Regions from separate parts of the Homo sapiens genome. Here region 2 is linked to region 1. Evidence: fine-mapped expression QTL. Tissue or cell type: whole blood. Region 1 holds a variant in brackets; the other region holds the start of a gene. All regions are shown on one strand. Distances are between the middles of the regions.

Evidence for each region. PIP is the estimated chance that this variant, and not a neighbour inherited with it, causes the effect.
Region 2: SFXN3 starts here. The variant in region 1 is the best candidate, but not a certain one, in a credible set for the expression of SFXN3 in whole blood (INTERVAL, PIP 0.84).

The regions. Positions count from the first base shown.
Region 1 is chr10:101,062,964-101,067,070 of GRCh38, forward strand. KAZALD1 (Kazal type serine peptidase inhibitor domain 1) reads left to right here. Exons shown (of 5, transcript NM_030929.5): 2 at 1-140; 3 at 1,298-1,458; 4 at 1,538-1,685; 5 at 1,863-4,096. The coding sequence ends at 1,957. Among named protein-coding and RNA genes, the nearest start is that of KAZALD1, 3.0 kb to the left of the region's middle. The variant G/C (reference allele first, on the strand shown) is at 1,629.
Region 2 is chr10:101,029,002-101,033,095 of GRCh38, forward strand. SFXN3 (sideroflexin 3) reads left to right here and starts at 2,233. Exons shown (of 12, transcript NM_030971.6): 1 at 2,233-2,533; 2 at 3,313-3,481. It overlaps PDZD7 (PDZ domain containing 7), which reads right to left and starts at 2,128. Exons shown (of 17, transcript NM_001195263.2): 1 at 2,072-2,128; 2 at 993-1,383. The coding sequence starts at 1,218. RefSeq lists an enhancer at 2,546-2,755.

The DNA.
Region 1 (4,107 bases):
TCTGTGTGCCTGTCGTTCGCAGAGTCCGCTCTGCGGGTCCGACGGTCACACCTACTCCCAGATCTGCCGCCTGCAGGAGGCGGCCCGCGCTCGGCCCGATGCCAACCTCACTGTGGCACACCCGGGGCCCTGCGAATCGGGTACGCATGGCCCGGGGCCCCCACCCCAGCACTTAGGTTTCCTAGAGGCACTGCTCCCCGACCCCTGACAGCATTGGTCTCTGGCCAGCAGAGCAAAAAAGATAAGGCTATAGAGGCCTCGAGTCCAGTATAAAACCCTGCTCTCGCTACTGGTTCATAAAAGCTGCCACCTTAAGGTGGGGGTGGGGGGTGGAGTGGAGTGGGAGTCCCGGGCTTCGTCAGCAAGCTGCATTCGCTGAACCACGTGAAAGCTCCAGAGCTGGCTGGCAGGGAGAGACAGGTCCTCTGAGGGCGCAGGCACATAACCTATGGTTTGCTCAGAGACCCCCCCGACTTTTCCCAGACCAGTGGAGTCCAGGCAGCAAGACGGGTTCCTGTGAGATGCAATCACGTTTCATTCTTAGAGCAGTTTGTTCACCCAGTCTCCCCACCTCTCTGCTTTCTCCTGCTTTTAGGGATTAGTGAAGGGGAGCGGGAAGTTCTTTCTCTATCCCTGGGGACTGGGGTCCATTCAGGCCTCTAGCTTTCCTTGGTAGCTTTAGTAACTTTCACTTCCTGAGCCCGGGCTCTGCGTCTGGCTCGGCTGGGGCAGCCAGAAAACAAACACCCCGTGGGGGTCCCAGCAATTTCCTCCACTCCTGCAGGCTTCCTGCCTGTCGCACAAGTCCAGCTTCAGGTTCTCTGCCTTGCCGCAGGACTCCCCCAGGGGGTACTGAGGAGGGAACGGCTGCTTTTCCTCCTTTGGGAACTGGGCCTGTTTAGAAAAGGGGAAGGGGGATCTGGAAGGTTTTGATTACAGGCACGCAGGAAAGGCTGGGGAGGGTGAAATGAGGACAGGGGAGCAGTTAGGGACAGAGTGGCTGCCAAGCTACAATGTAGATGTGTGTGCTTGTTTGTGCATTGGGTCTGCATGAGGTTCTATGTGCACATGTGCATGTATACCTATCTCCACGTCTGCGTGGTACCCTTGTGTGTACCAGCATCCATATCTGTGTGTACCTGTGTGTGTCACGGTGTGTTTATGGATGTGTATTTACCTCAGCATATATTGTGTTCTGCCACAAGCATGTCCACAAAAATTTGTGTATCATGTCTTTGCCAGACTGGATGCCTTTGCTGGGCCATGCTATTCTCAGACCTCCCGCCTTCACCCCCAGGGCCCCAGATCGTGTCACATCCATATGACACTTGGAATGTGACAGGGCAGGATGTGATCTTTGGCTGTGAAGTGTTTGCCTACCCCATGGCCTCCATCGAGTGGAGGAAGGATGGCTTGGACATCCAGCTGCCAGGGGATGACCCCCACATCTCTGTGCAGGTAGACTGGTGGGAGAGGCTTCCCTCAGGCAGCCCAGGGCCCTCCAGAAGGACCCTGCTGATTCCTTGCCTGGCTCCAGTTTAGGGGTGGACCCCAGAGGTTTGAGGTGACTGGCTGGCTGCAGATCCAGGCTGTGCGTCCCAGTGATGAGGGCACTTACCGCTGCCTTG[G/C]CCGCAATGCCCTGGGTCAAGTGGAGGCCCCTGCTAGCTTGACAGTGCTCACACCTGGTAAGGGGATTCCTGAGTTCTGGGGGTTGGGGGGATGGTGCTGGATTCCAGTTGTGAATGTGTAAGAAACAGACCATGTGTCTGTATACACAAGCATAGCCTTCCGCAGACTGGGCTATGTGGGCACCGACAGCCCCTCTCTCCTGTTCTCTCTTCTTTGCCCATGTGTGTTTGCAGACCAGCTGAACTCTACAGGCATCCCCCAGCTGCGATCACTAAACCTGGTTCCTGAGGAGGAGGCTGAGAGTGAAGAGAATGACGATTACTACTAGGTCCAGAGCTCTGGCCCATGGGGGTGGGTGAGCGGCTATAGTGTTCATCCCTGCTCTTGAAAAGACCTGGAAAGGGGAGCAGGGTCCCTTCATCGACTGCTTTCATGCTGTCAGTAGGGATGATCATGGGAGGCCTATTTGACTCCAAGGTAGCAGTGTGGTAGGATAGAGACAAAAGCTGGAGGAGGGTAGGGAGAGAAGCTGAGACCAGGACCGGTGGGGTACAAAGGGGCCCATGCAGGAGATGCCCTGGCCAGTAGGACCTCCAACAGGTTGTTTCCCAGGCTGGGGTGGGGGCCTGAGCAGACACAGAGGTGCAGGCACCAGGATTCTCCACTTCTTCCAGCCCTGCTGGGCCACAGTTCTAACTGCCCTTCCTCCCAGGCCCTGGTTCTTGCTATTTCCTGGTCCCCAACGTTTATCTAGCTTGTTTGCCCTTTCCCCAAACTCATCTTCCAGAACTTTTCCCTCTCTCCTAAGCCCCAGTTGCACCTACTAACTGCAGTCCCTTTTGCTGTCTGCCGTCTTTTGTACAAGAGAGAGAACAGCGGAGCATGACTTAGTTCAGTGCAGAGAGATAGGTGAGGCCAGCTCGAGATCTTATACCACTCTGTATTGGACAAAGGCTAGCACAGGGCTAGGCACCAATAAAGATTTCTAATGATGCACAGACAGTTTATGCAGATGTGCACATGAAAACTGAATATCCCTGGGAGGCCTCCCACACTAACAGAACTCTGGCTTCCAGAAGCTGCAGGGCCTGCTCTCTAAGCACATGCCTGCCAGATGTACAAAGAGAAAGTTTGAACTTGGGCCTATCCCGCCTTTGAGGGAGGGAGGCTGGAGCCATATGGCTGGAGGGAAGTTATCTTCCCCGTCTGCCCTCCATTGGGGCTGATATACATTATCTGCTTCTTTGCTCATCTTATTCCAAACCCTTCCCCAGGCCAGAATGGGGAACAGGGCTATGTGGGTTGGCCCCCAAAATGAAAGCATAAACTGGATAGAGGAGGGTGGAAGTTTGGTCACCTGTGTGGTCCATACCCTTCCCCAGCTCCCATAGGAATCTACCCATTTCCTGCAGAAGCCAGAGTCATGGTAAGGCTGTTTCCTATCTGCCCCAATTGTGACCTGTCCTCTCTGGCTTGGGGTCCCCAAATCTCTTTCCTCATTCTCCTTACCTATCCCAGGGACACTGGTGAGACTCAATGTTTATTTAATGATTGGAGGAAAGAATGAAAGCATAAGTCAGCGAGGCCGAGGCGCTGTGTGTAGATGGCGACAGCCTCCTACACGCCAGGGCTCCACCCGGATCCTGGCGCCACTGCGGGAGGGCCTGCCCTTGGCTCAGCGTCAGAGTTTGTCCTCTGGGGCCCAACGCAGGGAGCCTGGCCACATGGGAGGGGTGTGGTCCGGAACTCCAACCCCAGGTCCTGCTTGGCCGCCCCTCCCGCGGCTACGCACTACTCCATCTACTGCTGGCTTGCCCCGGGTCCTTAAGCCAGCGACAGTTTTTATTGCCGAACCCAGGCTGGAAGCGGGCGGCCCTAGGAGCCGCGCACAACAGCGCAAGCGGGCTGGATACCGGGAGCCGATTCCAGGGCGCCCACAGAAGCAGAATCAGAGGGGTAGGCGGGGGTGGGGCGTGCTGTTCGGCGCTGTGGCCAAAATCCGCCCGGCGCTGAAAGAGGGGACGTGGGTGTGAGTCCCAGCATCAGCCAGGGAATCCGCCCCTAGCTTGTTCTTCGCCCAGCTGGGCTCCAAGACGCCCTCTGCGGGCCCATAGCTCCTACCGCGTCCACCTGCAGAGCAGAGGCTCCTCACCAAAAGCCCCACCCCACCGGAGAGGGTCACGCAGGTCCCGGGGAATCCGCACTCCTTAATCGCGTTAGCCGACTTTGTAGGTGTTCAGGAGCAGCCTCCTAGCAGCCTCAGTTTTCCCCTCCCCGCCCTGCTGGTTCAAGCACCACAGCCTGGAATGGGAGAACTGTTGTCCACCGCCCCCTCCCTCCCCGCACCCCGCCTCTGCTGCAGCGGACCCGCTTTAATAATGTCGCTGGAAAGTGACACGCGATTTATTATTAAAGTAATGCGGGCGCAGGGACGGGAAAGGTTTAATAAACGTGCTGAGATGCCGAGGATTATTCACC
Region 2 (4,094 bases), 34 kb before region 1:
AGGGCCTGAACAGTCCAGTCTGGGATCCAGCCAGGGGAGCTCTGCTGGCTAAGAAAGAGGAGAGGAGCTGGAGATATTTATCTGGTCCTGCTCACAGAAAGCTCAGACTCAGGGGGCCTGGCTCCGCACCTGGCATTCTAGGTCCTGTCTTGCTCATCAGCTGTTAGTCACCTCACATCTGTCACTACAGCCAGGCTGGCTCCTAAGTGCCCACCTACCATGCTCCATGCTTTTCACTTCCAGCCTTTGTTGGTGACAGCTCACCCCTGCCACCAGCTGTTCTTATTGCTCTGTCCTGCTACACTGTAGATTCCTGGAAGGTGAAGAGGGAGCCTGATTTCTCTCTAGGTCCCTTGTAACACCTCCCCAGGGCTGGTATAGAATTGTGCTCCATGAAGCGGCATTAAGCAACTACATAAGCTTAGGTCTCCCCTTCCCTGATGGAGCTCCCTCTCCACCCTCAACCCTCCTCTTCTGAACATTTGCTGTGCTGCCTTCATTCCCCTCCTTCAGCACGGAAGCCCTGAATTCTGTCTACCCGCTTGGGCACTGACTCCTCGCAGCCCAGCACAGAGCTTGTCACACAATGGACTGGTTGATGGAGGATGTCCTTCTTTATCCTGCCCCATCCCCCAGAAGTACACACAATGGATCTGGAGAAGGGCAGAGCCCATGGGAGAGAGGCCAGTTCAATCCCCTGCCTTGTCCACCAGGGGCTAGCATACCACACGCATGCCTGTCCCTGCTGCCATGGCCTTCTTTCCCTCCTCTGACCCTTCTACGACCCTGGACCCCTGCAGGATTGGCCTGGAGGAGAGGCCAAGGGCAGGTGAGGAAGAGTGTATGGGTTCCCAGGCGGCCTGCCACCTCCCTGTGACTCCCATCTCTTGAATTCCCCCAATCATACTGGCTCTGCCTCCTCCTGCTGAGTTCCCATTGTCCCCTACCCCCACCCTCCCCAACCCAGGCCAGTGGCTGGGTCCCGCCCCTACCTTCGATGGGGGAGTTGATGAGGATGACGCGTCCCATGGGCGATGAGGCTCGGATTCCGCGGGGGGGCCCGTTCAGCAGCCGTTGTTGCTTCCTTAGCAGGTATCGCGTTGCGGTGGAGCCTGAGTCGCTGCCTAGGTGGCCTCGGGAGGAGAGGGAGCTCAGAGAGCCGGAGCTCAGGTCTCCTAGGCCCAGTGGGTCGAAGCCCACTGCGAAACCCTGCGCCATGGCGGCTGGGCTAGGGCGGCACCCTACAGGTCCAGAAGGAATCTGCTAGCTCTGGAGAGGCCAGCCCTGCGTGCTTCGAGCTCCATGAGCCTCTGTGCGGGGCTGGGGTCTCAGTAACGTGAAGGCCCTCGCTTGCGATGCCTCTCAGAAGTGTGAGCTCCAGGCCTGGGCAGGGAGAGCAGGGATGAGGGAGGGGTGTAAATGTTTCCCCTGCTGCCCCCTAAAACTTCCACCCCTCCCCCTGGTTTAAGCATCCTGCCCTCCCATGCCTTAGGCCCCCCTCCTGTCTCACCCTAGGCCAGAGAACTGCCCCGTCCAGGCACCATCTTGGACTCTCGCTGACTTTATACAAGGCAGGTGGGAACCTTTCACCCCTCATTCCTGCTCGGGGCTGAGTCATCTACTCCCGTCCCCAGTCCTCAGTAGAGGTTGAGAGTGGAGTTGGGATTACTGCGGGCCCTGGGGCTTAGAGAGGTGTGAGACAAAAGAGAGGTCAGGACAGCTCATGGCATCACCTCTCTCATGCATATGCGGGCATGGAGGTGGCCCGGGGTGGGGCGGGGGCTGCGTGGGGCGGGCTGGGCCTCGAGGATAGGGCTTCAGGACCTTAGACAGCTGAGGCCCAGGAAGACCCCCAGACACCCGCGGGCTCCAGGCTGCGGCTCCGGGTCTAAAGAGGCTGCATGAACCTCTCCCAAGCTTTGGGGAGGATCTGCTGGAGAGGGGTCCCACGACATCCCGCGCAAAACCCAGGGCCAGTTCCCTCAGAGAAGCTCTGGGACCTAGAATGAAGCACCCCAACATCAACTCGGCCCTCCAGGCCCCCCACCCCTTTGTGCCTGGTCGGCCTCACCTGGTCGCTGGTGTGGCGCCGCCAGCCTTGTCAAACCACCCGCAGGCGAGAGCTACTGCCGCAGCCGGCAAACCCCACCCACGCTGCGCGGAGGCTGCGGGAATTGGGCTGGCCTGCACCGCCCCGGGCTCCCATTGGCTGGTAGGGCCGCCAGTCATTCTATTCCGGCACCTCCCTTAGGCGCCAGGGACAGCCGAGCGTTACCTGGTCCCGGGCAGCGGAGTTCTTTACCCACCCCAGTTCTGGTTCTGACGCCCTAGCTCATTCCGCAAATTTAGGGCTTGGGTCTGGCTTGTTCCCCTCCGGCTCGAACCACCTCTTCTCTGAGCCGAGCCAGCTACCGGGGCTCCTGGAATTGCCACCCCTCCCTGGGCACCCTTGAGGCCTCCGTGGAGGGACGTCACGGGGCAGAGCGGGACGTGAGCCTGAGTTTGCTGCAGGCGTGCTCTGTGTGGTGGCTGGGTGAGTTGTGAGTATGTGCGTGGCGGAGGGGGTGCCTTCTTCACTTGCATCCTCCTCCTCTGTCAGAAGGCGTCTCTGGCTACCCAGTTCTGGAATGGTCGCAGGGTGGGGCAGCTGGTCCCAGGACCGGAAGAATCCTAAGAATCCTTCTGATGCACTTGCTCGGATGCAGACCGCGAGGTTCCTGGGGTCGTCTGCCCCTCCACATCTCAGGGGTGGGGCTACGGTCTGGGGTGCAGGGCTAGGGGTTGGGAGCGTAAGGAGACCAGGGACACAGTGGAGCTAGGGGTTACAGAGGGGGAGCAGGGAGAGGGCTGGGGACATAGAAGAGGCACAGGCACGACAGGAACGGGGCTGTGAAGTGATGCGAATGCCGCGCTGCTACAAGAGGAGCTTGTGGATACTGGGGTAGGAGCCCAGGGGGACAAGCAAGCCAAAGGCCATTGCCAAGGCAGCCATCAAGTAAACAAGCCAGGCGGTAACCCGAGTCCCTCCCGGCGCGCCAGCAGAGGACCGCCCCTCCACACCGCCCACCTGCGCCCGGGGCTTTCTCTCTGGGCACCTAGACCGCTTGCTGCAGGGCTGGGGGTCTGCTGAGGCCCGCCAGGGGACTGTAAACCAAGGGAGCAGCGCCCGCGGCTCCAGCCCCTCCTCCCTTTGGCTGGGGAGGGGGCCAGAACTGATCCCCGAGGTGGGATTGGCTCTGGGAAGCAGCTTAGGGCCTGGTCCAGGTGGCCCAGGCTGGGGGCATCGCCTCGAATGACACCCACCGCCCTCAGGTTCTGCCAATCCCCGTGCCCACCGGGTGGGCGCGGCCGGGAAGCTCCTGCCCCTCCCTGCTGGTCGGCGTCACGCGTGACGTCCCGCGTGATGGCTGGGAGGGCCCGGCGGCGACAGCGGAGGCAGAGAGGAAGGCGGTTCTGAGAGCTTCAGAGAGCGATGGAAAGCGTAAGTGCTCGCTCTCCCCGGCGGGCGGGGTTCTGGAATGGGGGTCAGAGAAGGAGGCCTGCCTTGAAACTGTCTGTCCTGGTGCAGTCAATGTCCTCGGCTCTGTGGAGGTCCAAGTCCACAGGGCACAAGGGAGGTTGGGGGGAGGAATGTCAGGGTGGGGCTGTGTGTAGTCACACATTCAAGTGTCTGCAGATGGGCACAGTGTGCGCCTGTAAAGGTGTTTGAAGGCCGGTGTATACAGGACACCTCCACTCTGTCTGTATGTCTGGGCAGGGTGTGCATGATAGTGTCTTTGTGTGTGGGTATGTGAGTGTGAGGGGAGGGCGTCTCTGCCTCTGCGGGAGGAAGTGTGGCTGGAGAGGATTAGTCATTCTGTAGGATTCTGCCCAACTCAGCCAGATGGCTGCACCAGGCTTTCCTCTCTGTGCTGGGTGGAGGGAGCAGCCACTGAATCCTGCTCTTATCCGGAGGCAAGTGGCCCAGAGAGAGGTGGATGAGTGTCTGTGCCAGCCCTGCCTGGCCAGGGACCAGGGAGAGCCTGGGGTCATTCAGTGTGAGTTGGAGAAAAATGGGTCTGTAGAGAGGACTTGTGCGTGCCCACATGCACACA